Homo sapiens: one gene and its partners. The protein of the gene in region 3 interacts with the protein of the main gene of each other region in a pairwise test. Each region holds a gene or a part of one and is shown on either strand. Other genes may lie near its edges.

What was found.
Region 1: the proteins of AQP9 (region 3) and HHLA2 interact in binary tests that used the Homo sapiens proteins (3 or more experiments, as listed by UniProt).
Region 2: the proteins of AQP9 (region 3) and PAEP interact in binary tests that used the Homo sapiens proteins (3 or more experiments, as listed by UniProt).

The regions. Positions count from the first base shown.
Region 1 is NC_000003.12:108,366,323-108,378,586, forward strand, and holds the end of HHLA2 (HERV-H LTR-associating protein 2 isoform a precursor), read left to right. Parts: intron 1-9,427; coding exon 9,428-9,478; intron 9,479-10,170; coding exon 10,171-10,235; coding exon of another isoform or gene 10,236-10,289; exon of another isoform or gene 10,290-10,935; coding exon 10,936-10,956; 3' UTR 10,957-11,963; downstream 11,964-12,264. UniProt on the Homo sapiens protein: Through interaction with TMIGD2, costimulates T-cells in the context of TCR-mediated activation. Enhances T-cell proliferation and cytokine production via an AKT-dependent signaling cascade.
Region 2 is NC_000009.12:135,555,270-135,567,431, forward strand, and holds PAEP (glycodelin isoform 1 precursor), read left to right. Parts: upstream 1-6,486; 5' UTR 6,487-6,532; coding exon 6,533-6,628; intron 6,629-7,024; coding exon 7,025-7,164; intron 7,165-7,550; coding exon 7,551-7,624; intron 7,625-8,974; coding exon 8,975-9,085; intron 9,086-10,068; coding exon of another isoform or gene 10,069-10,140; coding exon 10,141-10,245; intron 10,246-10,515; coding exon 10,516-10,532; exon of another isoform or gene 10,533-10,561; intron 10,562-11,264; exon of another isoform or gene 11,265-11,283; 3' UTR 11,284-11,686; downstream 11,687-12,162. UniProt on the Homo sapiens protein: Glycoprotein that regulates critical steps during fertilization and also has immunomonomodulatory effects. Four glycoforms, namely glycodelin-S, -A, -F and -C have been identified in reproductive tissues that differ in glycosylation and biological activity.
Region 3 is NC_000015.10:58,180,771-58,189,065, reverse strand, and holds the end of AQP9 (aquaporin-9), read right to left. Parts: intron 5,106-8,295; coding exon 4,931-5,105; 3' UTR 3,155-4,930; downstream 1-3,154. UniProt on the Homo sapiens protein: Aquaglyceroporins form homotetrameric transmembrane channels, with each monomer independently mediating glycerol and water transport across the plasma membrane along their osmotic gradient.

The DNA of each region.
Region 1 (12,264 bases), on a different chromosome or scaffold from region 3:
TGAAGCCAACTTTATCATGGTGCATAAGCTTTTTGATGGGCTGTGGATTCAGTTTGCCAGTATTTTATTGAGGATTTTCGCTTTGATGTTCATCAGGGATATTCGCCTGAAGTTTTCATTTTTTATTGTATCTCTGTCAGGTTTTGGAATCAGGATGATGCTGGCCTTATAAAATGGTTAGGGAGGAGTCCCTCCTTTTCTGTTGTTTGGAATAGTATCAGAAGGAATGGTACCAGCTCCTCTTTGTACCTCTGGTAGAATTCGGCTGTGAATCTGTCTGGTCCTGGGCTTTTTTGGCTGGTGGGTTATTAATTACTGCTTCAATTTCAGAACTTGTTATTGGTTTATTCAGAGATTCGACTTCTTCCTGGTTTAGTCTTAGGAGGGTGTCCGGGAATTTATCTATTTCTTCTAGATTTTCTAGTTTATTTGCTTAGAGGTGTTTATAGTATTCTCTAATAGTAGCTTGTATTTCTGTGGGATCAGTTGTGATATCCCCTTTATCATTTTTTATTGTGTCTGTTTGATTCTTCTTTCTTTTCTTCTTTATTAGTCTGGCTAGCAGTCTATCTATTTTGTTAATCTTTTCAAAATAGCAGCTCCTGGGTTGACAGACACCTCATACAGGAGATCTCCAGCTGGCATCAGGCTGGTGCCCCTCTGGGACAAAGCCTCCAGAGGAAGGAGCAGGCAGCAATCTTTGCTGTTCCGCAGCATCCACTGGTGATACCCAGGCAAATAGGAACTGGAGTGGACCTCCAGAAAACTGCAGCAGACCTGCAGAAGAGGGTCCTGACTGTTAGAAGAAAAACTAACAAACAGAAAGCAGTAACATCAACATCAACACAAAGGACCCCCATACAAAACCACATCCAAAGGTCATCAGCCTCAAAGATCAAAGGTAGATAAATAAATGAAGATGAGGAAAAACCAGCACAAAAATGCTGAAAATTTAAAAAACCAGAATGCTTCTTCTCTTCCAAATGATTGTAACTCCTCTCCAGCAAGAGCACAAAATTGGACAGAGAAAGAGTTTGACAAATTGACAGAAGTAGGCTTCAGAAGGTGGGTAATAACAAACTCCTCTGAGCTAAAGGAGCATGTTCTAACCCAATGTAAGGAAGCTAAGAACCTTGATAAAAGGTTACAGGAACTGCTAACTAGAATAACCAGTTTAGAGGAGAATATAAATGACCTGATGGAGCTGAAAAACACAGCATGAGAACTCGTGAAGCATACACAAGTATCAGTAGCCGAATCGATCAAGCAGAAGAAAGGATATCAGAGACTGAAGATCAACTTACTGAAATAAGGTGTGAAGACAAGATTAGAGAAAAAAGAGTGAAAAGGAATGAACAAAGCCTCCAACAAATATGGTACTATGTGAAAAGACCAAACCGGTGATTGATTGGGGTCCCTGAAAGTGATGGGGAGAATGGAACCCAGTTGGAAAACACACTTCAGGATATTATCCAGGAGAACTTCTCCAACCTAGCAAGACAAGCCACTATTCAAATTCAGGACATACAGAGAACACCACTAAAATACTCCTTGAGAAGAGCAACCCCAAGACACATAATTGTCAGATTCTCCAAGGTTGAAACAAAGGAAAAAAATGTTAAGGGCAGCCAGAGAGAAAGGTCAGGTTACCTACAAAGGGAAGTCCATCAGACTAACAATGGATATCTCTGCAGAAACCCTACAAGCCAGAAGAGAGTGGGGGCCAATATTTAACATTCTTAAAGAAGAGAATTTTCAACCCAGAATTTCATAACCAGCCAAATTAAGCTTCATGAGTGAAGGAGAAATAAAATCCTTTACAGACAAGCAAATGCTGAGGGATTCTGTCACCACTAGGCCTGCCTTACAAGAGCTCCTGAAGGAAGCACTAAATACAGAAAGGAAAAACCAGTACCAGCCACTGCAAAAAAACACCATAATATAAAGACCAACAACACTATGAGGAAACTGCCTCAACTAATGTGCAAAATAACTAGCCAGCATCATGATGACAGGATCAAATTCACACTTAACAATATTAACTTTAAATGTAAATGGACTAAATGCCCCAGTTAAAAGACACAGACTGGCAAATTGGATAAAGAGTCAAGACCCATCAGTGTGCTGTATTCAGGAGTCCCATCTCACATGCAAAGACACACATAGGCTCAAAATAAAGGGATGGAGGAATATTTACCAAGCAAACGAAGAGCAAAAAAAAAAAAAAAAAAAAAAAAAAAAAAAAAAAGCAGGGGTTGCAATTCTAGTCTCTGATAAAACAGACTTTAAACCAACAAAGATCAAAAAAGACAAAGACGTTACATAATGGTAAAGGGATCAATGCAACAAGAAGAGCTAACTATCCTAAATATATATGCACCCAATACAGGAGCATCCAGATTCATAAAGCAAGTTCTTAGAGATCTACAAAGAGACTTAGACTCTCACACAATAATAGTGGGAGAGTTTAACACCCCACTGTCAATATTAGATCAATGAGACAGAAAATTAACAAGGATATTCAGAACTTGAACTCAGCTCTGGACTAAGCGGACCTAATGGACATCTACAGAACTCTCCACCCCAAATCAACAGAATATACATTCTTCTCAGCACCATATAGCACTTATTCTAAAATCGACCACATAATTGGAAGTAAGGCACTCCTTAGCAAATGAAAAGAATGGAAATCAAAACAGTCTCTCAGGCTACAGTGCAATCAAATTAGAACTCAGGATTAAGAAACTCACTCAGAACCACACAACTACAAGGACACTGAACAACCTGCTCCTGAATGACTACTGGGTAAATAATTAAATTAAGGCAGAAATAAATAAGTTCTTTGAAACCAATGAGAATGAAGACACAACGTACCAGAATCTCTGGGACGCAGCTAAAGCAGTGTTGAGAGGGAAATTTGTAGCACCAAATGCCCACATCAGAAAGCAGGAAAGACCTAAAATCAACACCCTAACATCACAATGAAAAAAACTAGAGATTCACGGGGGGAGGAGCCAAGATGGCCGAATAGGAACAGCTCCGGTCTACAGCTCCCAGCGTGAGCGACGCAGAAGACGGGTGATTTCTGCATTTCCAACTGAGGTACCAGGTTCATCTCACTGGGGAGTGCCTGACAGTGGGTGCAGGACAGTGGGTGCAGTGCACCATGTGTGAGCCAAAGCAGGGTGAGGCATCACCTCACCCAGGAAGCACAAGGGGTCAGGGAATTCCCTTTCCTAGTCAAAGAAAGGGGTGACAGACGGCATCTGGAAAATTGGGTCACTCCCACCCTAATACTGCGCTTTTCCAATGGGCTTAACAAATGGCACACCAGGAGATTATATCCTGTGCATGACTCAGAGGGTCCTACACCCACGGAGTCTCGCTCATTGCTAGCACAGCAGTCTGAGATCAAACTGCAAGGCAGCAGCGAGCCTGGGGGAGGGGCACCCACCATTGCCGAGGCTTGAGTAGGTAAACAAAGCAGCCAGGAAGCTCGAACTGGGTGGAGCCCATCACAGCTCAAGGAGGCCTGCCTGCCTCTGTAGACTCCACCTCTGGGGGCAGGGCACAGACAAACAAAAGGCAGCAGTAACCTCTGCAGACTTAAATGTCCCTGTCTGACAGCTTTGAAGAGAGTAGTAGTTCTCCCAGCACGCAGCTTGAGATCTGAGAACGGGCAGACTGCCTCCTCAAGTGGGTCCCTGACCCCCGAGTGGCCTAACTGGGGGGAACCCCCAGTAGGGGCGGACTCACACCTCACACGGCCGGGTACTCCTCTGAGACAAAACTTCCAGAGGAACGATCAGGCAGCAGCATCTGTAGTTCACAAGTATCCGCTGTTCTGCAGCCACCACTGCTGATACCCAGGCAAACAGTGTCTGGGTGGACCTGTTTAGTGGACCTCCAGCAAACTCCAAAAGACCTGCAGCTGAGGGTCCTGACTGTTTGTTAGAAGGAAAACTAACAAACAGAAAGGGCATCCACACCAAAAACCCATCTGTACGTCACCATCATCAAAGACCAAAGGTAGATAAAACCACAAAGATGGGGAAAAAACAGAGCAGAAAAACTGGAAACTCTAAAAATCAGAGCGCCTCTCCTCCTCCAAAGGAACGCAGCTCCTCACCAGCAACGGAACAAAGCTGGACGGAGAATGACTTTGACGAGTTGAGAGAAGAAGGCTTCAGACGATCAAACTACTCTGAGCTAAAGGAGGAAGTTCGAACCCATGGCAAAGAAATTAAAAACCTTGAAAAAAAATTAGGTGAATGGCTAACTAGAATAACCAATGCAGAGCAGTCCTTAAAGGACCCGATGGAGCTGAAAACCAAGGCACGAGAACTACATGACGAATTCACAAGCCTCAGTAGCTGATTCGATCAACTGGAAGAAAGGGTATCAGTGATGGAAGATGACATGAATGAAACGAAGCGAGAAGAGAAGTTTAGAGAAAAAAGAATTAAAAGAAATGAACAAAGCCTCCAAGAAATATGGGACTATGTGAAAAGACTAAATCTACGTCTGATTGGTGTACCTGAAAGTGATGGGGAGAATGGAACCAAGCTGGAAAACACTCTGGGGAAGTTCTCCTGGATAATATCCTGCAATCTAGCAAGGCAGGCCAACACTCAAATTCAGGAAATACAGAGAACGCCAGAAAGATACTCCTCGAGAAGAGCAACTCCAAGACACATAATTGGCAGATTCACCAAAGTTGAAATGAAGGAAAAAATGTTAAGGGCAGCCAGAGAGAAAAGTCGGGTTACCCACAAAGGGAAGCCCATCAGACTAACAGCTGATCTCTTGGCAGAAACTCTACAAGCCAGAAGAGAGTGGGGGCCAATATTCAACATTCTCAAAGAAAAGAATTTTCAACCAGAATTTCATATCCAGCCAAACTAAGCTTCATAAGTGAAGGAGAAACAAAATCCTTTACAGACAAGCAAATGCTGAGAGATTTTGTCACCACCAGGCCTGCCCTAAAAGAGCTCCTGAAGAAAGCACTAAACATGGAAAAAACAACCGGTACCAGCCACTGCAAAAACAGGCCAAATTGTAAAGACCATCGAGGCTAGGAAGAAACTGCATCAACTAACGAGCAAAATAACCAGCTAACATCATAATGACAGGATCAAATTCACATATAACAATATTAACCTTAAATGTAAATGGGCTAAATGCTCCAATTAAAAGACACAGAGTGGCAAATTGGATAAACAGTCAAGACCCATCAGTGTGCTGTATTCAGGAAACCTATCTCACGTGCAGAGACACACATAGGCTCAAAATTAAGGGATGGAGGAAGATCTACCAAGCAAATGACAAACAAAAAAATGCAGGAGTTGCAATCCTAGTCTCTGATAAAACAGACTTTAAACCAACAAAGATCAAAAGAGACAAAGAAAGCCGTTACATAATGGTAAAGGGATCAACTCAACAAGAAGAGCTAACTATCCTAAACATATATGCACCCAATACAGGAGCACCCAGATTCATAAAGCAAGTCCTTAGTGACCTACAAAGAGACTTAGACTCCCACACAATAATAATGGGAGACTTTAACACCCCACTGTCAACATTAGACAGATCAATGAGACAGAAAGTTAACAAGGATATCCAGGAATTGAACTCAGCTCTGCACCAAGTGGACCTAACAGACATCTACAGAACTCTCCACCCCAAATCAACAGAATATACATTCTTTTCAGCACCACACCACACCTATTCCAAAATTGACCACATAATTGGAAGTAAAGCACTCCTCAGCAAATGTAAAAGAACAGAAATTATAACAAACTGTCTCTCAGACCACAGTGCAATCAAACTAGAACTCAGGATTAAGAAATTCACTCAAAACTGCTCAACTACATGGAAACTGAACAACCTGCTCCTGAATGACGACTGGGTACATAATGAAATGAAGGCAGAAATAAAGATGTTCTTTGAAACCAATGAGAACAAAGACACAACATACCAGAATCTCTGGGACACATTCAAAGCAGTGTGTAGAGGGAAATTTATAGCACTAAATGCCCACAAGAGAAAGCAGGAAAGATCCAAAATTGACACCCTAACATCACAATTAAAAGAACTAGAGAAGCAAGAGCAAACACATTCAAAAGCTAGCAGAAGGCAAGAAGTAACTAAAATCAGAGCAGAACTGAAGGAAATAGAGACACAAAAAACCCTTCAAAAAAATCAATGAATCCAGGAGCTGGTTTTTTGAAAAGATCAACAAAATTGATAGACCGCTAGCAAGACTAATAAAGAAGAAAAGAGAGAAGAATCAAATAGATGCAATAAAAAATGATAAAGGGGATATCACCACTGATCCCACAGAAATACAAACTACCATCAGAGAATACTATAAACACCTCTACGTGAATAAACTAGAAAATCTAGAAGAAATGGATAAATTCCTTGACACATACACTCTCCCAAGACTAAACCAGGAAGAAGTTGAATCTCTGAATAGACCAATAACAGGCTCTGAAATTGTGGCAATAATCAATAGCTTACCAACCAAAAATAGTCCAGGACCAGATGGATTCACAGCCGAATTCTACCAGAGGTACAAAGGAGGAGCTGGTACCATTCCTTCTGAAACTATTCCAATCAACACAAAAAGAGGGAATCCTCCCTAACTCATTTTATGAGGCCAGCATCATCCTGATAGCAAAGCCTGGCAGAGACACAACCAAAAAAGAGAATTTTAGACCAATATCCTTGATGAACATTGATGCAAAAATCCTCAATAAAATATTGGCAAACCGAATCCAGCAGCACATCAAAAAGCTTATCCACCATGATCAAGTGGGCTTCATCCTGGGATGCAAGGCTGGTTCAACATATGAAAATCAATAAACGTAATCCAGCATATAAACAGAACCAAAGACAAAAACGACATGATTATCTCAATAGATGCAGAAAAGGCCTTTGACACAATTCAACAACGCCTTCATGCTAAAAACTCTCAATAAATTAGGTACTGAGGGGACGTATCTCAGAATAATAAGAGCTATCTGTGACAAACCCACAGCCAATATCATACTGAACGGACAAAAACTGGAAGCATTCCCTTTGAAAACTGGTACAAGACAGGGATGCCCTCTCACCACTCCTATTCAACATAGTGTTGGAAGTTCTGGCCAGGGCAATCAGGCAGGAGAAGGAAATAAAGGGTATTCAATTAGGAAAACAGGAAGTCAAATTGTCCCTGTTTGCAGATGACATGACGGTATATCTAGAAAACCTCATCGTCTCAGCCCAAAATCTCCTTAAGCTGATAGGCAACTTCAGCAAAGTCTCAGGATACAAAATCAATGTGCAAAAATCACAAGCATTCTTATACACCAATAACAGACAAACAGAGAGCCAAATCATGAGTGAACTCCCATTCACAATTGCTTCAAAGAGAATAAAATACCTAGGAATCCAACTTACAAGGGATGTGAAGGACCTCTTCAAGGAGAACTATAAACCACTGCTCAATGAAATAAAAGAGGATACAAACAAATGGAAGAACATTCCATGCTCATGGGTAGGAAGAATCAATATCGTGAAAATGGCCATACTGCCCAAGGTAATTTATAGATTCAATGCCATCCCCATCAAGCTACCAATGACTTTCTTCACAGAATTGGAAGAAACTACTTTAAAGTTCATATGGAACCAAAAAAGAGCCCGCATTGCCAAGTCAATCCTAAGCCAAAAGAACAAAGCTGGAGGCATCATGCTACCTGACTTCAAACCATACTACAAGGCTACAGTAACCAAAACAGCATGGTACTGGTACCAAAACAGAGATATAGACCAATGGAACAGAACAGAGCCCTCAGAAATAATGCCGCATATCTACAACCATCTGATCTTTGACAAACCTGACAAAAACAAGCAATGGGGAAAGGATTCCCTATTTAATAAATGGTGCTGGGAAAACTGGCTAGCCATATGTAGAAAGCTGAAACTGGATCCCTTCCTTACACCTTATACAAAAATTAATTCAAGATGGATTAAAGATTTACATGTTTGACCTAAAACCGTAAAAACCCTAGAAGAAAACCTAGGCAATACCATTCAGGACATAGGCATGGGCAAGGACTTCATGTCTAAAACACCAAAAGCAATGGCAACAAAAGACAAAATTGACAAATGGGATCTAATTAAACTAAAGAGCTTCTGCACAGCAAAAGAAACTACCATCAGAGTGAACAGGCAACCTACAGAATGGGAGAAAATTTTCGCAACCTACTCATCTGACAAAGGGCTAATAACCAGAATCTACAATGAACTCAAACAAATTTACAAGAAAAAAACAAACAACCCCATCAAAAAGTGGGCAAAGGATATGAACAGACACTTCTCAAAAGAAGACATTTATGCAGCCAAAAAACACATGAAAAAATGCTCACCATCACTGGCCATCAGAGAAATGCAAATCAAAACCACAATGAGATACCATCTCACACCAGTTAGAATGGCGATCATTAAAAAGTCAGGAAACAACAGGTGCTGGAGAGGATGTGGAGAAATAGGAACACTTTTACACTGTTGGTGGGACTGTAAACTAGTTCAACCATTGTGGAAGTCAGTGTGGCGATTCCTCGGGGATCTAGAACTAGAAATACCATTTGACCCAGCCATCCCATTACTGGGTATATACCCAAAGGACTATAAATCATGCTGCTATAAAGACACATGCACACGTATGTTTATTGCGGCACTATTCACAATAGCAAAGACTTGGAACCAACCCAAATGTCCAACAATGATAGACTGGATTAAGAAAATGTGACACATATACACCATGGAATACTATGCAGCCATAAAAAATGATGAGTTCATGTCCTTTGTAGGGACATGGATGAAATTGGAAATCATCATTCTCAGTAACTATCGCAAGGACAAAAAACCAAACACGGCATATTCTCACTCATAGGTGGGAATTGAACAATGAGAACACATGGACACAGGAAGGGGAACATCACACACCAGGGACTCTTGTGGGGTAGGGGAGGGGGGAGGGATAGCATTAGGAGATATACCTAATGCTAAATGATGATTTAATGGGTGCAGCACACCAACATGGCACATGTATACATATGTAACAAACCTGTATGTTGTGCACATGTACCCTAAAACTTAAAAGAATAATAATAATACAAAATAAATAAAAATAAATTGTACATCAAGTAAAAAAATTAAAAAACTAGAGAAGCAAGAGCGAACAAATTCAAAAGCTAGCAGAAGACAAAAAATAACTAAGATCAGAGCAGAAATGAAGGAGATAGACACACGAAAAACCCTTCAAAGAACCAGAGAGTGACTTTCAATTGAAGGACAGAGCCATACCAAGGTGACCTTACAGGGAAACAGCTGGGAGAGTAAATACCTAATTTCACTCTTCCCTGTCTCTGATCTACAGCCCAGCTAGAAGCCAGGAGGAGCAGACACCCTGCTGATGGAGCCCAACAAGGTCAGCCTCCCATGTCTGAGAGAAGAATGGATTCTGGTTCTGGAGGAGCAGTCAAAAGATATCGGCAAAAACTCTGTCACAGTATTGGCCACTTTAAAAAATAGATATATTCCATACTTCTGCAGTGAGATGGGCTGAAAATATATTTGAAGCTGTTATATGAAAAGCCACAAAACCTTTCCTAGCTCCAGCTCCCTGGTTGTAGTTTCATGACTGTGGTTCATATGTTTTATTTTTAAATTCCCTTTTCTATTACTGTTTTAAAATGTACTTTGTCTAAGATATGTATTAAAGGGCCATATTTTAGGAAAGTCCATAAGGAGACCTTCTTTGAGAAATGACATATCCCTTTTTCTTTAACCATCACTCTCATCCCCTCTTTGGCTATGACATTTCCATTGTTAGCAGTTGGTAGGAACCAGGCCAAGGATCACAAGGAGCCAGGAATTGCTGAGCTGACTGAACTGCCTTTATTCCCCGGCTTTGGAGCACCTGGATCAACCATACACATTTACTGCTGCTTCTGATGATGTGTTTTTACACTGAATGCATTTTTCATGTTGTTTGTTAAAGATATGCAGGGAGAGTAACTCAGATGATTCTAATAACATGATTATATTGAGATAGGACTAAGGGAGAATTTTGGTGTTTGCAAAGAAATTATTTTTAAGTTCTCTTTTTTTTTCCTGTAGAAAGATGTTGTGTCCCTCCTGGTGAGCGCTGTCCCAGTGCACCCGATAATGGCGAAGAAAATGTGGTAAGGCATTATTTCCTTTATCAAACCATATACAGTATAAAAATGCTTCTTTAAAAGGGTAATTGAAGTTCTGACTGATTCACATATCATCAAGCAAGACTTTTATACAGAAAAAAACAGCAGCAGGGGTTGCAGGATAATATAGCACGAAAAATATAATTAGGCTTTTCCCAATGTCTATAATTAAACAGGCTCTACTTGCTTAAATACATGGTTGTTCTTCTTGTCTCCTATTGTTATTTGTAGAGAAGATCTCCAATGGCATTGTGCATATGAGGGTGAGCCAATGTACTTATTCTTATGATAGAAGCATGAAACATGGGATTGTATACAAGTGGAAAGAAACACAACTATAATTCACTTGCAAATTATAGTTTGATTGTATACTTCCTTTTTACTGCATTCCTTTTAGTATTTATGTGTTCCATTAATCAGAGTATAAATAAGGGCCAGGAGTGTGGTAAACTTGTTTTTTCCACTGTTAAAAACCATGAAACAGCTAGTAGGGAGATTAAAATTAACTGATAAGACTCAGACTTATTTTATAATGGTCTCATGGATCTTTAATTTCAGATGCAAGCAATAGACTAAAGCTTTTTGCCGCCCACCCCAAAACACTACTATCAATAAATATTTAAGATATAAATGGTTATTCTGACTTGAACAACAGACATTTAGAGTCTATTTTTCTTGCTTCTAGCCTCTTTCAGGAAAAGTATAGGAAATGAGAGAAGACTGTGACAACTCATGACCTGCATCCTTAATATCCAGTGACTTCATCTCCCCTTTCTTCACCACAATTCCAGGCAATGGCCTGTCGGAGCAGACAATTCTACCACTGCAAAGAGTTGTAACCATTTTCTGGTATCACATTTATTTTTCAAGACATACTTTTCAAGACATCATTCACTGACCCACTACCTGCATTGAGTATAAATGCCTGGATGTTAAGGATTCCAATTTAACTTTGAAAAGAACTGTCTCATTCATTTACATTTCTGTTACAGTCAGCCCAGGAGGTTACAGTGAGCTCTCCACTAAGAATCTGGAAGAAATGCATCACTAGGGGTTGATTCCCAATCTGATCAACTGATAATGGGTGAGAGAGCAGGTAAGAGCCAAAGTCACCTTAGTGGAAAGGTTAAAAACCAGAGCCTGGAAACCAAGATGATTGATTTGACAAGGTATTTTAGTCTAGTTTTATATGAACGGTTGTATCAGGGTAACCAACTCGATTTGGGATGAATCTTAGGGCACCAAAGACTAAGACAGTATCTTTAAGATTGCTAGGGAAAAGGGCCCTATGTGTCAGGCCTCTGAGCCCAAGCCAAGCATCGCATCCCCTGTGATTTGCACGTATACATCCAGATGGCCTAAAGTAACTGAAGATCCACAAAAGAAGTAAAAATAGCCTTAACTGATGACATTCCACCATTGTGATTTGTTCCTGCCCCACCCTAACTGATCAATGTACTTTGTAATCTCCCCCACCCTTAAGAAGGTACTTTGTAATCTTCCCCACCCTTAAGAAGGTTCTTTGTAATTCTCCCCACCCTTGAGAATGTACTTTGTGAGATCCACCCTGCCCACAAAACATTGCTCTTAACTTCACCGCCTAACCCAAAACCTATAAGAACTAATGATAATCCATCACCCTTCGCTGACTCTCTTTTCGGACTCAGCCCACCTGCACCCAGGTGAAATAAACAGCTTTATTGCTCACACAAAGCCTGTTTGGTGGTCTCTTCACATGGATGCACATGAAACTATGAACATAAGAATCTCTGAAGTTAGGTTACACTTGACCACACAAGGCTTGCATAGTTGAGTGACTAGCCATGAAGATAATTTAAACAACTCTTCTGGCTCAATTGGCATATTGCTAATCAATCTTCTAATAAATTTAGATTTTCATATAAATTTTTAAGCAAGAGAAGGGAGAACTCAGCTAACCTAATCTGTTTCCCTTAATTTTAGTCATCAATTTACATAAAAGAAACAGTCTAATGTTAATGCTTGTGAACTTGTC
Region 2 (12,162 bases), on a different chromosome or scaffold from region 3:
TGTCATATTTACTTTGTGGATTTCACGTTGTTGGTTTCTTGACGTGGCAGCTGGCCTCCAGGATGGCTTCCGTTGTGTGATGCCTTCCATTGAGTGTGGGCTGGACCTGGTGACCCACTTCTAATAGATATGACAAGGAGGAAGGGATGGCGCATGAGTCAGACACAGAGTGTGACATCAGCCCCACTGGTCCTCATACTGGTTATGGTGGGGAACCATGTCACAAGCAGCCCCAGGAAGAGGCTCATGTGGCAGGAGCCTGAAGTTCCCACCAGCCATTGTGGCCCACCAGTTCCAAGACATTCTCCAGAGCCCAAAGTCCCAGCCCAGAACATGACCACAGCCTCATTGCAAACCCTGAGCCAGAACCACCCAGCTGGGCCACTCCCCACCTCCTGACCCTCAGAAATCATTGTTTGAAGCTGCTCTGTTTGGAGACAATTTCTTATGCAGCAAGAAATAACACACTCCATTTTGTTTTTCGTTAAATAATGTTAGACTCCGTGTGGCTACAGTTAAATTATTTTTAACGTGTTGGATCTTCCCAATACTTGCTTTTAATTGTATTCGAATGGGTTCAGAACAGCCCTTGCTAACCCCGCTACCAATTCAGTCTCTTTTTGAGAATTCTGCCCGCTGCCTCGTGTATTCTGAAGGCTTTCTTCTCGGCTGTGTGAGTTCTAAGAGTCACTCCATTGACCATTTCCGAGGTTTCCTTCCTGCCCCTCTGTGTGTCTCCTGAGCGCTCCGTGTAGCCCTTTCTCTCCGAAGCTTTGCCCAGCAAATTCGAGTCCCTCCGCCTCCCCACACTCTAACACTCTTCTCCTCAGCGTGTGTGGGGTGGCGCCCTGGGATCTGTTTGGGTTCGTTTGCCCTGAGCCAGGCCTTGCTGGGGTCACAGAGCTCAGCACTCGTGTTGTGTCTTTCAGGGATCATGATCCTTCGCGGCCTGTTGTCAAATATCCAGAAAGCACTGCTTCCGAAATCTCCTGGATTTCTAGTTGTTTAAGGTGAGCAAATACGATACCTGCTATTGTATGTTAGCCAGGAGGGGAAGTTTGAGTTGTGTTGTTATTTTTTAGCTTTTGTTTTGAAATAACTATAGATTCATGGGAAGCTGCAAAAATAGTACAGAGGGGTCCTGCTGTGCATAGCTACAGTCAGACCTCACATAACTACTGTGTGAAGATTTACATAACCATACATCGTGCAGAACCAGGTCTTATTCGTATTTCACCAGTTTTCTATTCATTTGTGTGTGTGTGTGTGTGTGTGTGTGTGTGTGTGGTTCTATGCAATTTTTTACATGTGTAGATGTGTGTAACCACTGCGGCAATCAACATATAGAATGGTACATCCCCACAGAGATCTCTTGTTCTACCCCTTTACAGACACACCCATTCCCCAGGCCCAGCCCTTGGCTACCACGAATAAGCTTTCCATTTCTTTTTTCTTTTTCTTTCTTTTTTTTTGAGACTGAGTCTGGCTCTGTCTCCCGGGCTGGAATGCAGTGGCGTGATCTTGACTCACTGCAAGCTCCGCCTTCCGGGGTTCACGCCATTCTCCTGCCTCAGCCTCCCGAGTAGCTGGGACTACAGGCGCCTGCCACCACGCCCGGCTAATTTTTTCTACTTTTTAGTAGAGACGGGGTTTCACCGTGTTAGCCAGGATGGTCTCAATCTCCTGACCTCGTGATCCGCCCGCCTTGGCCTCCGAAAGTGCTGGGATTACAGGCGTGAGCCACCGCGCCCGGCCTCAGCTTTCAATTTCTATAATGTCATTTCGAGAATATTGTATAAACAAAGTCATAGAGTATGCGACCTTTTGGGGTTGGCCTTTTTCACTCAGCGTAGTTCCCTTGAACGCCCTCCTGCTGCTGTGGGTATCAGCAGTTCACCTCGTTTTATGGCTGAGTCTCCCATAAGGCAGATGTACTCGTCTGTCTAACCATTCATTCACGGATGGAGTTTTCCAGTTATTAGCTATTACAGGCAAAGCTGCTGTGGACAATTGTGTACCGGGTTTTCTGTGTCCATTTATCCCATTTCTCGGGATAAATGCCCAGGAGTAAAACTGCCAGGCTGTATAGTAAGCATATGCTTATTATTTTTGTGTTGTTTTGTTGTTTTTTTACACGGAGTCTTGCTCTGTCACCCAGGCTGGAGTGCAGTGGCGCAATCTCGGCTCACTGAAGCCTCCACCTCCCAGGTTCAAGCGATTCTCCTGCCTCAGCCTCCTGAGTAGCTGGGACTACAGGTGCACACCACCACACTCAGCTAATTTTTTGTATTTTTAGTAGAGATGGGGTTTTACCATGTTGGCCAGACTGGTCTCGAACTCCTGACCTCAGGTGATCCATCCCCCTCTGGCCTCCCAAAGTTGGGATTACAGGCGTGAGCCACCACTCCTGGACCAGCATATGCTTAGTTTTAAAAGAAACTTCCAGCTGGGCGTGGTGGCTCACACCTGTAATCTCAGCACTTTAGGAGGCCAAGGTGGGAGGATCTCTTGAGCCCAGGAGTTCAAGACCAGTCTGGCCAACATAGTGAGACCCAGTCTCTATTATTTAAGCTTAAAATTTTTTAAATAAAAAACAAAAGCAACTTCCAATTTCCAGCATGGCTGAACCATTTTAGAGCCACTCAAAGTATGCATTTCTCAACATTTTGAGAGATTCAGTTTGTCTCCATCCCCACTAATATTTGGTTTGGTCCCTACTTTTCATTGTAGCTGTCCTAATAGGTCCCTACTTTTCATTGTAGCTGTCCTAATAGGTCCCTACTTTTCATTGTAGCTGTCCTAATAGGTCCCTACTTTTCATTGTAGCTGTCCTAATAGCTGGGCTGTGATAGCTCACTGTGGCCTTAATTGGTGCTCCTTGATAGTCAATGACATTGAGCATCTTTTTAGGTGCTTATTTGCCACCCATAGATCTTCTCTGGGGAGATGTTCCTTCATGGTTTTTGCCCATTTTCTAGGTGGATTTTATTTTTGCTGTTGAATTTTCAAAGTTCTCTATATCTTCCAGACACCAGTCCTTTGTTGGATATGAAACTTTCAAATGTTTTCTCCAAGTTTGTAGCTTGCCTCTTCATCCTCTTTTTTTTTTTCTCTCTCTCTCTCTCTTTGTTTTTTGAGACGGAGTCTCACTCTGTCACCCAGGCTGGAGTGCAGTGGCGTGATCTTGGCTCACTACAACCTCTGCCTCCTGGGTTCAAGTGACTCTCCTGCCTCAGCCTCCTGAGTAGCTGGGATTACAGGCATGTGCCACCAGGCCTGGCTAATTTTGTATTTTTAGTAGAGATGGTGTTTCACCATGTTGGCCATAGGTGGTCTCGAACTCCTGACCTCAGGTGATCCGCCCACCTCGGACTCCCAGAGTGCTGGGATTACAGGTGTGACCCATCACGCCCGGCCCCGTTCATCCTCTTAACAAGGTCTTTCTGGAGCAAGAGTTTCAGATTTTGATGCAGTATGATTTACCAGTTTTTTTCTTTTGTGGATCTTGCATTTGGTGTCAAGTCTAAGAATTCTTTACCTAGCCCTACGTCCTGAAGATTTTCTCTCACGCTTTCTTCTAAAAGTTGTATAGTTTTATGTTTTACTTTTAAACTATGAGTTAATGCATATGTCAGGTGTGAGTTTTAGATGGAGGTTCTTCGTTTGCATGGGATCGATTGCACGTGATGAATTGCTCCAGCACCATTTGTTGCAAAGACTGTCCTTCTTTTAGAGGGACTCCCGCTTGCCAGGCCTCTGGTTTAATGAAACATGACCAGAGTGACTCCATCTTAACGTGAATAACTAGACACTCACAAGGCACCTATAAGGTTATATAACGAGGCTATGCTGCTCGATACTGACTACGACAATTTCCTGTTTCTCTGCCTACAGGACACCACCACCCCCATCCAGAGCATGATGTGCCAGTACCTGGGTGGGTCTCACAGCACATGAGCTCAACGTGGGTGAGAGGCAGCAGCTACTTCCATGGCTGGGAACCCTGGGGAGCTGACAACTGGCTTCCTGTCCACCTCAGTGCCTGTGGGCTGGTTTTTTCTTTCTTGGTTTTTTTTTTTATTTGTTTGTTTGCTTTGTTTTTTTTGAGACAGGGTCTCATTCTGTCACTCAGGCTGGAGTGCAGTGGCGTGATCTCGGCTCACTGCAACCTCCACCTCCCAGATTCAAGCGATTCTCGTGCCTCAGCTTCCCGAGTAGCTGGGATTACAGGCGCGAGCTTATGGTCTGAAAATACCCGCATACTAAGCTGACCACCAATTATAACTGCAGAACATTTATGCCCATACGAGGCATCTCCCACCAAGCCTGGAGAATGTACCGATGACCTGGGAGTGCAGGGGGTTATCTTTGCTCACAAATAACGTCAACGAGTAGGCTGAGGCTGAAGGGCAAATGGTCATTGATCACACTAGGAGCCCCTATCTTTAGCGAGTGCATCTGCATGATCCAGGTTTCACTGTAGCTCATTACAGCTTCTTACAAACAGAGGCACTCACAGAGGACGGGCGTTCCTCCTGCTCGCTGAGGTTGCCCGGCTCTGGCACAGAGTCATTTCCCATAAACTTGCTTTCACTGTGCTCTGTGAGTCACCTTGAATTCTTTCCCGTGTGAGATCTAAGAACCCATTCTTGGGGTCTGGACTGGGACCCTCTTTTCCGACAACACTTCCCCCACGCACTGTTCTTGCAGCTTTGTTAAAGGTCTGTTGTTGTTGTGTGTGAGTCCATGTTTGGACTCTCTATTTCCCATTGATCTATGTGTCCATTTCTCTGCCAATACCACAATCTCTTGGTGACTATTGATAATAGTGCTTGTAAACTTGGGTAGACTAACTCTTTATACTTTATTCTTCTTCAAAATGGCTTTAGCAATTGTAGCTCCTTTGCCTTGACATGTAAATTTTAGAAAAAAAAATTTCTCTATATATCTACATATGGTGGGGTGTGGTGGCTCACACCTATAATTCCAGCACTTTGGGAGGCCGAGGTGAGCAGATCACTTGAGGTCAGCAGTTCGAGACCAGCTTGGCCAAAATAGTGAAAACCCCTCTCTACTAAAAATACAAACATTAGCCAGGTGTGGTGGTGGGCGCCTATAATCCCAGCTACTCTGGAGGCTGAAGCAGCAGGATTACTTGAACCTGGGATGCAGAGGTTGCAGTGAGTCAAGATCGTACCACTGCACTCCACCCTGGGCAACAGAGCAAGACTTGGCCTCAAAAAAATGTATATATGTATATATGTGTGTGTGTGTGTCACACACATGTCTATAGCTACCTACAAAATATCTTGCTGAGAATTTGATAGGAATTGCATTAAATCTCTAGGTTGAGTTGAGGAGAGCTAACACCTTTGCTGTGTTGAAGCTTCCAGCCCATGAACACATTGTGCCTGTCCTTTACCTTAGGTCTTTGATTTCCCTTCCTTGGGTTCAGAGTTTAAGTCCTGTCCATATTTGGTGAGATTTTTGCCTACATGCTGTGTGTGTGATTACAAATCCTGAATTTCCAGTTTCGGGTTCTGTCTACTCCTTGACACTGTGTGGGAACACGGTGGATTTTTGTGCGATTGACCTTGCTGACCTCACTCGGTTCTAGGAGGGGTTTTGTAGAGTTCTTGCAATTTTGTACCTGGGCAATGATGTTATATGCGAATAGAGACAGGTATACCTCCCCCTTCCCAATCTGCCTGCCTTTAGTTACCATTTCTTGCCTAGCTGCTCTGGCCGGAATGACCTGCTCTGATGGATGGGGGAGTGGGAGTGGACACCCGTGTCTTGCCTCAGGACTCAAGTGCTCTCCAGGGAGTGAGATGCGGGCTCGATTGTAAGTTACAAAGTGATGCTTCCCTGTGGGAAAAAGTACATCCAATATAGACTGTAGGACAAAGTCTGAAAGTCCACTGCCTCCCATTTCCACCCAGTCTTGCCTGTGAGTCAGAGAGAAACAGTGCTAACAGGCAGTGTGCACCTGTCCAGAGGCTGGCTGTTTGAGGGACACAGGTGTGCACACCTGGGGATGTCTGAGTGGAAGGTACAGGTCAGGATTATGACCGTGCAGTCAGTCACCCACTGGCATGATGTCTGTGGCATCCTGGGGCAGCCATGGGGCTCTCAGGCCCTCTGCCTGCCCCACAGGCCATACCCCTGCCCTGGACACAGCTGTCCTCAGTGCTGGCCTCTGACCCAACATTGTCCAGGAGCCCCAACCCAGAAGGTGCTCCCGCCGCTGCCAGCCTGGACCCGACCCAGGCCCCTCCCGCCTGAGGCCCTGCCAAGAACTGCCCAGCCCGGACACAGAGGAGGTTCCCGCGTGGACGCAGGGAAGAGCCTCCCATTGCCCCAGTGGAGGAAGCTGCCCAGGGGCCAAGGATGAGTCACAGGTTCGAGGAATCACATGGCGAGGCTGTGGGCGGGGATCTTGTCTGCCCTCCTCCTACATAAGGCCCCCTGAGCCCACACTGCCTCAGCATCCCTCTGGCTCCAGAGCTCAGAGCCACCCACAGCCGCAGCCATGCTGTGCCTCCTGCTCACCCTGGGCGTGGCCCTGGTCTGTGGTGTCCCGGCCATGGACATCCCCCAGACCAAGCAGGACCTGGAGCTCCCAAAGGTTTGAGGCTGGGGGAGCGGGCACTTTACTGTGGGAGGCCTGGGGCGGGTGGGAGCTGCGGGCAGGCAGGAAGCCCAGGATCTCAGAAACCTACAGGAAGCACAGAATGGACGCCATGACGTCAGGAAGCCCTCAGCCCTGCTCTCCATCTTTAGGGTGGCCTCTCTGGTTTCCCAGCATCCTAGGTGACTCATTATTTGGACTTTGGAACACTCCTGAGTTAGCACACACTGGTCATTTTAAGTACAGGAAATTTCATAGCCCAGGATCTGGTAGATAGCAGACAACCATCCAATGCTCACTGTACCCATCCCAGTTAGACTCAGCCCCGTCTGCACCGGGTGCAACGAGAGCCATGGTGGGGTGGGACCGCCGTGCAGCCCAAGGCCCCCTCAGTTGGCAGGGACCTGGCACTCCATGGCCATGGCGACCAACAACATCTCCCTCATGGCGACACTGAAGGCCCCTCTGAGGGTCCACATCACCTCACTGTTGCCCACCCCCGAGGACAACCTGGAGATCGTTCTGCACAGATGGTGGGTTTCTCATCATTGAGACGGGCTGGGCGGGGGCTCAGTCTCCCCCCTCAGGGGTCCAGGACTGGGTGGGTTGGGCGGAGCTGGACTTAGCCCCAGGCATTTTCTGACAGCCAGGGGCTTCACTGTGGCCCTTCCATGAGGGTGGGGTGGAAAACCAGGGCTCCAGACGTTCCCTGTCCCCTTGGATCCCCTGCCCCAGGCTCTGGGCCAACAGCCAACCACACAGTGCAGCCCCAGGTCAGACTGAGGAGAAGGTCTGGGCGGCTGCGGGCTGCGGTGCTCCTTGGACCCGGGGAAGTTCCCGTGGTGACCTGATTTTAGGAGTGACAGTGAAGGCAACTCCAATTCAAGTGGCCACTCATCCTATTGTCACCACCTTTCAGGGAGAACAACAGCTGTGTTGAGAAGAAGGTCCTTGGAGAGAAGACTGAGAATCCAAAGAAGTTCAAGATCAACTGTGAGTGTCCCCAGGCCCCAAGGGCTGGCTCAGTGCTGGCATGCTAGCCACGCTCTCCCAGAGGCGGCTCTGCTGGGGCATGAGGGAGTGGGGCCTGGCCTGTCCCCACTCTCTCTGCTTCAGGGAGTCAGAGTGTTTACTCCGGTCAACCTGATGCTGACCCCAGAGGCATCTTTTACCTGGAGGGCAGGGGAAGCACTAATTCTTGGCATGACATGACTGGATGTGGGTCTGCACTGTGCCCAGGCACAGGGGACAGGTGCTTTGTTGCACTGTTCACTCTGGCCTCACAAAAGGCCAGGGAGGCTGCAGGCGAGCAGGTGGGCAGGTGGGCAGGTGGGTAGGTGGGTAGGTGGATATGTATACAGGTGGGCAGGAGGGTAGGTGAACAGGTGGGTAGGTGGGCAGGTGGCTAGGTGAGTAAGTGGTTAGGTGAACAGGTGGGCAGGTGAGCAGGTGGTTAGGTGAACAGGTGGGCAGGTGGGTAGGTGGGTAGGTATACAGGTGGACAGGTGGGTAGGTGGACAGGTGGGCAGGTGAGTAGGTGAACAGGTGGGTGGGTGAACAGGTGGCCAGGTGAACAAGTTGGTAGGTGGGCAGGTGGGTAGGTGAACAGGTGGGCAGGTGGGCAGGTGGGCAGGTGGGCAGGTGGGCAAGTGGCTGCTGTTCCCGTGGGCCTGGCTGCCTCCTGCGCACTCTGGGGCTGCAGCTCTGGTCTTAGGCTGAGCTCCCAGGCCTCTCTGGGGGAAGAGAGAGGGGCTTACAGCATGTCCTTGGTCCACTGAATTCTTCCTAACAATTTGCAACATTTTGTTCTATTTTGTTAATTATTATTTTTTTAAAAAGACAGAGGTGGTCAGGGTCTGGGGCCTCTTATCCCCTCATGGGCACATTTTCCCAGCAAATACAGTTTGCTTCTCATGCTTGGGACTTGCCTCAGGCCTTTCTGACCCTGCTTGCCCTCCCCAGAATCGAGCCACTCTCCAAGGTCCATTTCTTCTCCCTCTTCCCGCCCCTGTGCCCTGTTCCTGTGCCATCTCCCGCCATCCTCACCCGTACGTGACTTCTCAGTTGGAGTCTCTCCAGGTCACAGCCTCCCTGCCTGCCGTGTCTGCCTCTCCACGGCACACCTGGCCTCTCCCCCTCAGCCGGGGCTCCATGGCCCTCCACATTGCCTCTCCTCCCCTTTCCTCCCTGGCTTCCCTGATCATGGTCCACAGCAGGGGCCACGTCCCATGGTGTCAGTGGATGAGGAAGCCACTTAGTGTGGTGGGATGTCCACACACCTGCACAGGACTCTGCTGAGACGGAGGCTTCATCTTCCTTTTGGTTCTTCTCTTCTTTCCCCAGATACGGTGGCGAACGAGGCCACGCTGCTCGATACTGACTACGACAATTTCCTGTTTCTCTGCCTACAGGACACCACCACCCCCATCCAGAGCATGATGTGCCAGTACCTGGGTGGGTCTCACAGCACATGAGCTCAACGTGGGTGAGAGGCAGCAGCTACGTCCGTGGCTGGGAACCCTGGGGAGCTGACAACTGGCTTCCTGTCCACCTCGGTGCCTGTGGGCTGACTTTTTTTTTCTTGGTTTTTTTTATTTGTTTGTTGTTTGCTTTGTTTTTTTGAGAAAGGGTCTCATTCTGTCACTCAGGCTGGAGTGTAGTGACGTGATCTCGGCTCACTGCAACTTCTGCCTCCCAGATTCAAGCGATTCTCGTGCCTCAGCCTCCAGAGTAGCTGGGATTACAGGCGCACGCCACCATGCCCAGCTAATTTTTGTATTTTTTGGTAGAGACGGGGTTTCACCATGTTGGCCAGGCTGGTCTCCAACTCCTGGATCAAGTGATCCACCCGCCTTGGCCTCCCAAAGGGCTGGGATTACAGGCGTGAGCCACCACGCCCGGCCAGGCTGAGTTTTTCTCCAGCGGTTCATCGAGTCCTCTGACAAAGCAAGGAGCTGATATAGGGCCAGTGGGACGGTCGCCAGTCAAGGGGCTGGGCTTGGTGGATAGATTAATACTCACTGGGCGTCCAGTCAAAACGCCCTGAAACCTATGATGCTGTCAACCAAACGAAGGCCAGGAATACCAAAATAGCCACATAGGCACAGCCCTTCCCCATGTTTCTGAGCACAGTGTTTCCTCTGGGGTCACACAGGTGTCTTCTTGATCAGCCTCAGCCATGCTTGGTGAGAGCCGGGCACTGGGAGAGCCAGGCACTGTGCTCTCCTGTGACGCTGTAGACACCATCCTAAGCTGTGCAGACCCCAGCGCTGCCCAGAGCGGAGCAGAGGGGGCCGGGCCAAGGAGTGGGAGCTGGGGTCAGGGAACCTGGAGGTGCAGTGGACAGAGCCCCGGAGACCGCCCTAGGGACCTACTCCAGACCAAACTCTGCCAGACCTCGGAGCACTGGGGCCTCCTTCTCTGCCCTCCCTCCTCAGGCAAGGCCTCTGGAGCTCCCCAGCTCTCATGGAAGCCCCAGGGGCCCAGGACTGACCCAGCCTCTTCCACAGCCAGAGTCCTGGTGGAGGACGATGAGATCATGCAGGGATTCATCAGGGCTTTCAGGCCCCTGCCCAGGCACCTATGGTACTTGCTGGACTTGAAACAGATGGAAGGTGAGCTCTGCCTAGGACACGCCCAGCCTCAGCTGGAGGAGAAGCTGCCTCTTTCTTAGCCCGAGCCCCCTGCTGGCTCTGCAGGACTCAGGTCACTCCTTTTTGGCCCCTCCCCTGTTCTCCCCTGGCCTTCTGGGGTGCAGAGCCACCCTGAGGTGGGGTCCTGCCCTCTCCCACCATCCTTTCATCCCTTCTCTAGCCCTGGGGCTGCTGTGTCCCCAGCTGTCTCTTCTCTCGCTGACACCTCCACTGTCCCATCTCCTCCCACAGAGCCGTGCCGTTTCTAGGTGAGCTCCTGCCTGGTCCTGCCTCCTGGGTAATGTATCAGCCTCGCCCACTGTCTGCGGCTGCCTCTCTGGGCCCCTGGGACAGACCCTACTGTGTCCAGTTCAGGGCTGACCCTACAGGAATGAACTGGGGTCTGGTCTTGTGATTCCAGAAAGCCAGGCTGCTGACGTCCCCATTCACGAGCCCAGCCTGTGTCTTGCAGCCATTGTATTAGTCACGGGCTTGTGCCCTATAGTCAGACCTCATGCTTTCTTTTGGGGTTAGGGGTGTTGGTTGGAAATGGTGGGGGCTATAGGAGGAGGAAGGAGGATGGTTACATGGAAGGGCATGAGAAGCTGGGGACCTGCAGGTCTCGGTCCCACGTTCTTTTTTTTTTTTCTTTTTTTAAGATGGAGTCTCGCTCTGTCACCAGGCTGGAGTGCAGTGGCACAATCTCAGCTCACTGCAACCTCGACCTCCTGGGTTCAAGCGATTCTCCTGCCTCAACCCCCCGAGTTGCTGGAACCACAGGCGTGTGCCACCATGCCCAGCTAATTTTTGTATTTTTAATAGAAACGGGGTTTCACCATGTTGGCCACGATGGTCTCAATCTCTTGACCTCATGATCCCCCCGCTTTAGCCTCCCAAAGTGCTGGGATTTCAGTGCCACATTCTTAAGGGGGTGTCCTCAAGCCCACCACATCCTTCCAGGGCTCCCCCGAAACACCCTGCTCTTCCTCCCTCTACTTAAGTGACCTGTAAACCCAACAGCTCACCTCCGCCTCCAGGAAGACCAGACTCCCACCCTTCCACACCTCCAGAGCAGTGGGACTTCCTCCTGCCCTTTCAAAGAATAACCACAGCTCAGAAGACGATGACGTGGTCATCTGTGTCGCCATCCCCTTCCTGCTGCACACCTGCACCACGGCCATGGGGAGGCTGCTCCCTGGGGGCAGAGTCTCTGGCAGAGGTTATTAATAAACCCTTGGAGCATGTCCTGTCTGGATGCGCAGCCACTGCTGGGTGTGGGATTCAGGGACGAGGGCCTGGGGTCGGGGCAGGCCCAGGCCACCGCCTGGCAGAACCGGAGCTCCTACAGACCCATGGGCAGCTTCTGGTGGAGAAAATACCTCAAGTTTCTTATCTACAAAACAAAAGGGTCCACTTTCACAAACTTGTGAAATGTCTAGAACAATAAAACCAGGACACTCATATCAGAATTGATGAGCCCAGAGGAAAACTCATAGTCTTTAATACTGAAATGGGTTAGCAAGAAATAATTAAAATCAATGAATCTGTAATGAGCTCTTGTTAGAAAAAAAAGCGTTAGAATGAGGAAAGTAAGAAAATAGAATGAAGGAAGATAAAAGCAAAAATGACAAAATCAGAGAAACATATCAAATTCATGCACCTGTGCCCCCAGGTGGGGAGGGGTGGGCATGGTAGGATTTAGCTCACCTGTCAGAAACACCCAGGAAAAAAAATTCCAGCAAGTATCAATCACCACAGATTAAGAGAAAATAGATTAAAAGAGTCATAAGGGATTATGCTATTTGACTCCAGAATATATTTTTTACAATCCAAAAGAGATGATTTCAAGGCAAATATAAGCATCCAAAACAGATCAGAGAAGACTGGAGACAGAGTAGG
Region 3 (8,295 bases):
CCTATTCTCTAAACCACTGTGCCACTCTTAAAATATTTATTCACATTTATAATTGAAATTAAAAATGAAGACATTCTCTGTTTCTGTTAAATTAATCAAAGAACATTTTATCTGCTGCAAGACAATGAGCCCAAAGGAGACCATTTGTCTGCAAGGAGGCTCGGTGGTGGGAAGTGCAGGAGTCTTGGCTCAGGACGGAGGGTGACCGAATGGTCCCGGTATTGGCACTGAATCCTGCATCCCAGGAAACGCTTGAGTTCCAAGCAACCTGGGATGGTTGGTCACCCCACTCAGACACGCGGTTCGCATCCCACCTCTTTCACTCTTCACTCCGGAACTTGGTACAAATTGTTTAAGGCCTCGACTCTCAGTTTCCCTATCTCTAAGTGGAGATAATAATCTACTTGCTGAGCTGTTCTGAGAGTCTTAGAGGTCCTGGATATGAACGTGCTTTGTGAACTGTGAGACACTAAGAATTAAAGCACAAGAATTGTTCTTTAATAACACGTTACGCAGGACCTTTGCATCGGGGGTACTCGGGCCCTGGACCGCCCTGCTTCCTCTGCAGGAAGGAAGTCAGGAAGCCACTCTCCTGCTGGGAGCCTGAGGTGGAGGGCGGAGTGCCACGACGTGGCCGATCCCCATGAACAGTGGTCTGGGCTCTGGAGCGTCCCTCACAACCTTCAGGACTCCCAGGGCTCCCGCAGTGTTTCCTAAGACCCCACAGTGAGGGAGTTGAGGGCCCCGTGGAGGAAGGGGCTGCGTGTGAGGGGCTCTGGAACACAGGGGGGCGCGCTAGAGTAGGGAGGCAGTGGCAGATAGTAGGACTTCCTTACTGGGCGCTATGTCTGGAACCCATGCTACTAAGAGACCATGGGAAGGCTTAAATATCTCCTGAAATCACATCCAGAAAAAAAGAATATAATCGAGCTTGTCACCAGAACAATTACAAAACGATTTAATTGATACTTTCAGGGGTGGGGAGAGGTCCACAAAGGCAAAAGTGTCGAAAGCTACTAGAAACATAAGGTAGCCCTGGAGGGAGACAGAGTCCAACTGGCTTGGGCAGCATCTCCATCCACACAGAGTTCTGTGGATTCATGTTCAGTTTGCCTGGTGCCCTCTTTTCACTAATCCAGAGACAGCATCTCTTGAATAAGAGCTACTCCGTTTCCAGCAATAAGAAAGAGATTGGAGCATGGTTGGTTGCTTACCTATCTGTCTGTCTATCATCTATCTATTTATTTTTATACAGACTTAGACAGTCAACACAGTAAGTGTGACCAGGAGTACCATTGCTTCTGTGTATGGGCTGTGATTAGTAAACATGTTGTCACAGAGAACTTAAATTCCCAGTTTGAGGACTGATGTACCACATCTCTTTGTGGGTGATGTTTGCTGGATTGAGTAATTCTGTTCACCCTGTCTAATTCATTTATTAAAAAGTCTTTGGAAAAGACCTGAGATTAAGTTAATATGGTCTTTTGTAGGTTATATCCTTGAAACTTTCATAAAAGTGTGCACCAACAACTTATCCCAAGTCTTTATCAATGATTTTCAAACTGTGACACTGTGTTCTGAAACCCCACCCCCAGCCCTGACACACACACACACACACACACACACACACACACACACACACAATTTCTCTTCAGAGACCCCTTAGGGGCTGCATTGGGGGTGTGTTTTTAAGATGATATCACAAGCAGAATGAAGCTCCTGATCCCCCTCCCTTTTTTTATTTATAGCAATTCTGGTTCACTTGTGGGTGTCATATAAGGTTTTATTTGAACGACAGGTTCTGTGGCTAAATAAAACTTATAAACCATTCTCTCTAACTGGAAGATGTATTTTTTTCCCATGACGATATTATTGAACATCAATATACCTTACAGTAAGACGTGTGTGTGTGTGTGTTTGTGTGTGTGTAAGCAATTTAAAGGAAATAATAATTTATATCCTAAGGATAACATTTTACGTATGACATTTTTATGTGGAGTATCCTGTTTAACAGCTGAATATTGACTGGTTGTTACTGGTTAGAAAAGCCCTGCAACCTTTGACATGCTCTGAGATCTCAACTGGTTAAAGAATCAGAGAAATTATATTTTTGGCATTAAGATAAATGCTTCTATCAAGTTTTTCGATTCATGAGGTGGAGGGAAGGAGGAATGTTACAATTCTAACTCTTAAAGCAACTATTTAAAAAATGGATAAGTTGGCTCTATCTAGTTGACTTTGGATACAGATAATTCAACCATATAAACATTCTCTTGGAAAATAACTCCACAAAGGTAAATCCACTTATTTGTAAATGGGGGTAGGGGTGGGGAGAGAATTTGAGTGTGAGCACCTGGAACAAAAGCACTTTTTTCCATTGAAAAAATTCTTCCTGGGGTTGATTTCCATAATGGTACATTTCCTGTTTATAAATCCTAGTCATCAATCATCAAATTGTGTTTAATGAGCACCTGTGTAGATCATAGATTCCACAGTTCATCCTCAAAACTCAAATTTTGAATTGCCTCTTGCTTTAAGAATTATAGTCCACCCCCAGGGTTTGTTCCTGGTTTGTCTGGCACCTTTGCTCCTGACTGAACTTGAATCAAGGTGCAGGATTTCAGTGTCTTCTCTTACTCCCCTCCCTACCTTTCCTCGACACCAAGATCTCCGAACCTCAGCATTATTGACATTTTGGGCCAAATAATTACCTGTTGGGAGGGTTGCCTTTGCATTGTAGGATATTTGGCAGCATCCCTGGCCTCTAGCCACTAGAGGCCATTAGCATCCCCTTCCCAGTTGTGATAACCATAAAAGTCTCCAAATATTGCCACATGTTCCCTTTAGAAGTAGGGAGGGAGGAAAACCATTGCTCTAATCCATGAGGATCCCAAGACTCTGGAATCCTGCTAGGAATTACCTGGCCACTACTGGACATGGTCAAAGAAACTTTAGACCCGTGTGATTTACCCAAGTCAATGTTCTCAACCCTTGCTGCATTTTAGAATCACCTGAGATGTTTACAAAGGACCAACTGGGCACCAGTATTTTTTCAAAAGTTCCCCCAGGAAATTCAAATTTGTAGACACAATAGACAACCTCTGAACTAGACGTACTTAGTAATCTTAATACTTATAAAAACCAACCAAGCAACCAACAATGACCGAACAATTTTATTTCAAATAGGAAATATCCAGGTAGCTTCAAAGCAAGAAAAAAAAATCCCGTATGTCCATAGATTGTAGAACATAAGTCATCAGAAACATTTCACATTTAATTTCTGCTGTTCTGATATCAGCACAAAGCAGTTGGGAAACCTAATGCCTTTGGGAATTCTGGGCTTTTTGACAGTTTGACTGAAGGTGCATCCCTTGATGTAGAGCATCCCCTGGTGCTTGTAACTCATAGGCGATCTTTTGTCAAAAGTAACATCTATTAGAGAACTTCAAGGGGAAAAGACTGAGCCAGAGGAAATCCCCTGAATGTAATGTTTGGTGCTGGCAGGAAGCAAGATCAAGACTTAGCAAGACCAGAGGTGGCTTAGGAAGGGAGGCCTTCTCATAATGTTTTTCAGCAAATGAAAGTTATGATTAAATTGCTACCACTTTCCTTCATCTGTACTCAGTAAGTGTGGGAATAGACCCAGACAATGAGGGTCTTTGTATCTTAAGATTGAGGAACATTTTGTCCAGAGGTGTACATATTCTAGAAGCTGCCAATTCCACTTCTGGCTAGCAAGGAAGATTTGGCAAAGATTGTCAGCCAGCTACTGATCTTCTGAAAGGTAGAGGAATGCATTAGATAACATTCAACTTTCAGTGTGCTCTTGGACAACTCAACTTATCTTCCCTAAGATTTTGTTTCTTTATCTGAAAAATGGGCAATGTGGCATTTGCCTCACATAGTCATTATGAGGATTAAATTAGATAATGGGTGTGAAAGTGCCTTGTGAATTGTTAAGCCCAATAAGGTAATATCTTTTTGGAGACCTCCCACTCTGAAGATTCAGCTAGACCAGGATCCAGTGGCTTTCAGTTTTGGCTTCTAGGGCATGTGTAAAATAATGGACAAGCACAGTCGTTGATATAACTTGTCAAATGTCTGTTCTCAAGTGGGCAATTAGGAAAATACATTTGAGCTAAAAAGACAGAGTGATGTATTTTTCATGACTGAGGTTACAATGGTATTTTAGGTTATTATATACTAAAGACCAGGAAATTAATTGGTGTCCTCTAAAATGCAGGAGAGCAAGAGATTAATCTGATAAATGGTTTCCATTAAAAATTCCATTTGGCTTCTCAAATTCATCTTGTCTCCTGCAGTTTCTGAATGCCACAATGTCCTCCCCTTGTGCCTTCCAGCTGCATTCTCTTGCTCCCTACACCACTAGGTTTGGAGAATATCAGTATTTATACAAATCCAGTAGCATAGCGGGAACTGGAAGCTTAACCCATTAGCTCCCTAATTCATGAATATGTTGACTGAAACCATAGTTTTGTCTTTCAATTTAGGGTTTGGTTGGTACTCAGAATGTAATCTTTGTCGATACTGAAGAAAAGGGTTTTGGTGACACCATTTCATACAGATAGTGCAGCTGAAACCACCCAAATGGGACTATCGTCAAGATGCCGAGTTATTAGTGCTTACCTAGCAAGAATTCCCATCGAGGATGAAATAAACAGGGCAGGAGAGAAGGCTGTTTCAGGGGACAGTCAGCGTTATTCTGGGGGGTGGGGGTGGGGGACAATGGTAGAGAAGTGGTCATTGTTTCCAAACTTTTATGCAGATGCTTTTCCAATTAGATGTCCCATATGGCTAGCAGACAAAACTGGGTGGATTCCACCTCAGGCTTACAAGAACACAGACACTTAGATGCCATCTTTCTGAAGAGAATCCCAAACTGACTGCAAATCCAGAGCTGAGCATGCCACTACATGATGACACTGAGTTCATATTTCTCTGGTTTGTCCTCAGATTGTTCTGTCTTAAAGACTGAGTCAGGCTCTGGATGGTGGATTTCAATGACAAGAACATAGATGAGGCCTCCAATGACAGCACCAACCAAAGGGCCCACTACAGGAATCCACCAGAAGTTGTTTCCAGCTCTGAAATCAAACAAGAAATTAGTGATACATTTCTTGGCCTTCCTCCTGGTATTACTGTCTAGTTTTTCACTCACTTGTTAGTCTTTCTCACACTCATGGTTCCCTCTTAACTCAGCAAGAGCTAAGTATAAGGGGGGCTCAGTGCAGCATGGCAACTGCCATCCTTGACTTTCCACTACACCTGATTTCAGATGATCTATTTAATTGTCCTACTAATATTTGTGAGATATTATGTCTTATTTATTTTCTTTTTATAAAATATAGTGCCTGAGCCCATCGTTAAGATTGAGGGCCCCTAAGAAAGTTCAGGTCAATTATTCAGAATTGCCTTTCCCTCATCCTGAAATAATGATTCCTGTGGATTACAAGCAGAATGTGGAGAGATTCCTGGGCATCATTAGTGTATGAGGACAATCAAACTAATCAATCAGGAAATGTTTTTCAATGAATGAATGAATTTTTAAAAAATCTAAGGTGGATGTGTGAATTGCCTTCTAAATATAATTTAAATCAGTACTTATTTTTTAAGATCTTAGCTTGAGGCTACCCTCTGATAAGGCTGTCATGCCATGGCTCTCTCTCTTCCAGAAATCCTCAATGTTAGTACATTACAGCAAAGCTATAGTTCTGGGGAAAAGCAGGTATCTTTGTGAGTTGTCACCATCTTCTTTGGAGAGAGAAAATCCATGTAAATAATTTCTTAGAAAGGATCAGGAAAGCAAACAAATTATACAGTATATTGTTTAAGGATATATACATTTAAGATAAAAGTATTTTTAAAAAGCAGGGGAATGGAAAACACAAAACTTCAGGATAAATGCAGAGGGGATGGGAGACAAGAGGAGTACCCAGAGGCATGTAAGAATTTCAGTGTTCTAGTTGGATTCTAGAAGGACCCATAGCTTTTCTTTTCATCATTATGCTGAATAACTACACATATGTTCCATGTGGCCTTTTGTATATCTCAAACTTTGATTAGAAAGAACGATAAAGGAAATAAGCAGGACACAAGAACCCTGTCCTAGAATCCAGGAAACTAAGTCTAATCTCAAGATTATCTAGAAGGTCTTTGAGCAAATCAAACCCCCATTCCCCATCGTGAGCTCCATTTCCTTCATCTGCATGGTCCCTTCCACCTGGGGCACCTAAGTGGTCTCCGAAGTCCTCCATTGCCCTTGCAGGGTTGATGGAAGAGCACTGAGCCTGAGCATGGCAGCCACCAGATGTCACTCTTACCACACGGCAGCGAGGATGCTGTACTCGGCCGCCCTCACAGTGCCCTTCCCCAGGCCCCAAATCCAGATGGATTTTTCTAGGGGAGGCACATGGAGGGTGGCTGCCTCTCCCGTTTGGCTGTAAAGACTTGAAGTCTTCTCTAGAGGTCAAAACATGAAGGGAGTATAAGCTACCTGTTGGGTCCATCATTTCCTTTTATGGCAAATTTCTTCCTGTCATTTAGCAGATGAAGGTCCAAGATATCAGCCAGGGTACACGTCCTCTTCACTGGCTGGATGCTTTTTATTTTATCAGATTGGACATGTTGTATCAGGTTCACAAGTCACAAATGGAGGCGCTCAGATGTGGTTACCTGCCTAGCCTAGTCCTATATGCACACAAATAGTGATCATTTGCACACTATGATTCGGGAGATGCCAGGAACATGTGTATGTTAACTGTCTAAAGGACCATCTTTAGGGATTCAATACTTTGGGCCAACTATTTGAAAAATTTAATAATACTCCTGAGAGCTTTCACTGATTAAGTCATTAACAATGTGAATAAGTGGAGAGAAATTTGATGGGAAACATCTTAACATTTAAAGGAAAAACCAAGAGTCTTTGGCCAGGGTCTGTTGACTCTTGCCCTCATCAAACCCTCTGGCATCTCGCTGTACCTGCCATCATTCCACTGCTTGCCGTTCAGGAGTACATGGGGACCTGGGAACAAGGTAGCCTTGTTTTTTTTCTAAGACCTTAGGTGTAGGTCCAAGCTAGGATATCTACTGAGGGATTTCCCTTGAATATAGAACTCTGAGGAAATGAGACACTCTAAGAACACTTTGGAAGCCTGTTGTCCCTCAAAGGTTTTGGGGAGAAATTTTTGGTTGAGGATTACCAGCCAACCCTGCTCTTTCCTAATGGGTTTCTACTTCCCCACTCTCTCCTTTTTCAATCAGTCTTATAGGATGATGCCAGATTAATTTTGCTAAATTGACATTCTAAACCTGCCAAACTTCTGCCCCAAATACTTTGCTACTCCCTATAACCTACAAAACAGGGAGCAGAAGAAAAGCCAAAATTCTCATTCTGGGAGTCCAGGTCCTCTATGATCTGACAACGGCCCTTTCCAACTTTCTTTCTGCACCCTTCCAGCTAGACTAGATCACTTGTGATTTTAACATTGTGTCTTTGAATAACGGTTCTCTCTGCCTGAGATAACCCCTCTGTTGCTTGTTTAAGCATATCCAAATACTATAAATGTTCCCACTTCCACTCCCATAATTCTTAAATTTGGAGCTGTAGACCTCTAAACTCCTGGAGTTAATTAGTCAAATCTCTTTAATGGCACTTGACTGCTTCAACCTTGTGTAAGAGCTTCTGGAATAACCTCTTAAGTAGAATATAAACACAACAGTGAAGGACAGAAACTAGGTCTTATCATCTTTAGTGGAGAGCCTTGAGTAAGATATCAAGTAGCTGCATGAATGAATAAATGACTCCATGGAAGGGAAAAGATCCTGATGCTAGCTAAGGACATGGGACATTAGGTGATTCCAACATTTTCCTTCACGTGAGTTCTCCTAACATATACTTAACAGAGCAAAGGGACATTGGGCAAGATCTCCATCTGTTTTGGAACCACCATGTCTCTTTGACTTTTGAATGAATCACCAAGGAGGTCTCAAAGGGGGTGGAAGAAGAGCTTGGTCTCCAAGACTGAGACTCTGGATGGTGGAATTAAGGGAAACTCATGGGCGAATTCTGGGCTCTGGGAATAAGGAGATCCTTAGGACATATGTTTTTGATGCTCCATTGGAAAGATACAAGAGATCCATCCTAGTTGCGGACATTTTCGTGTTCTAGTTGTGATCATTCTAGGAGAGAATTTCTCAACCACAAACCTATTAACATTTTGGACTGAATAATTCTTTGTTGTGGGAGGTGTGCCGTGTGCATTGTAGGATGCTTAA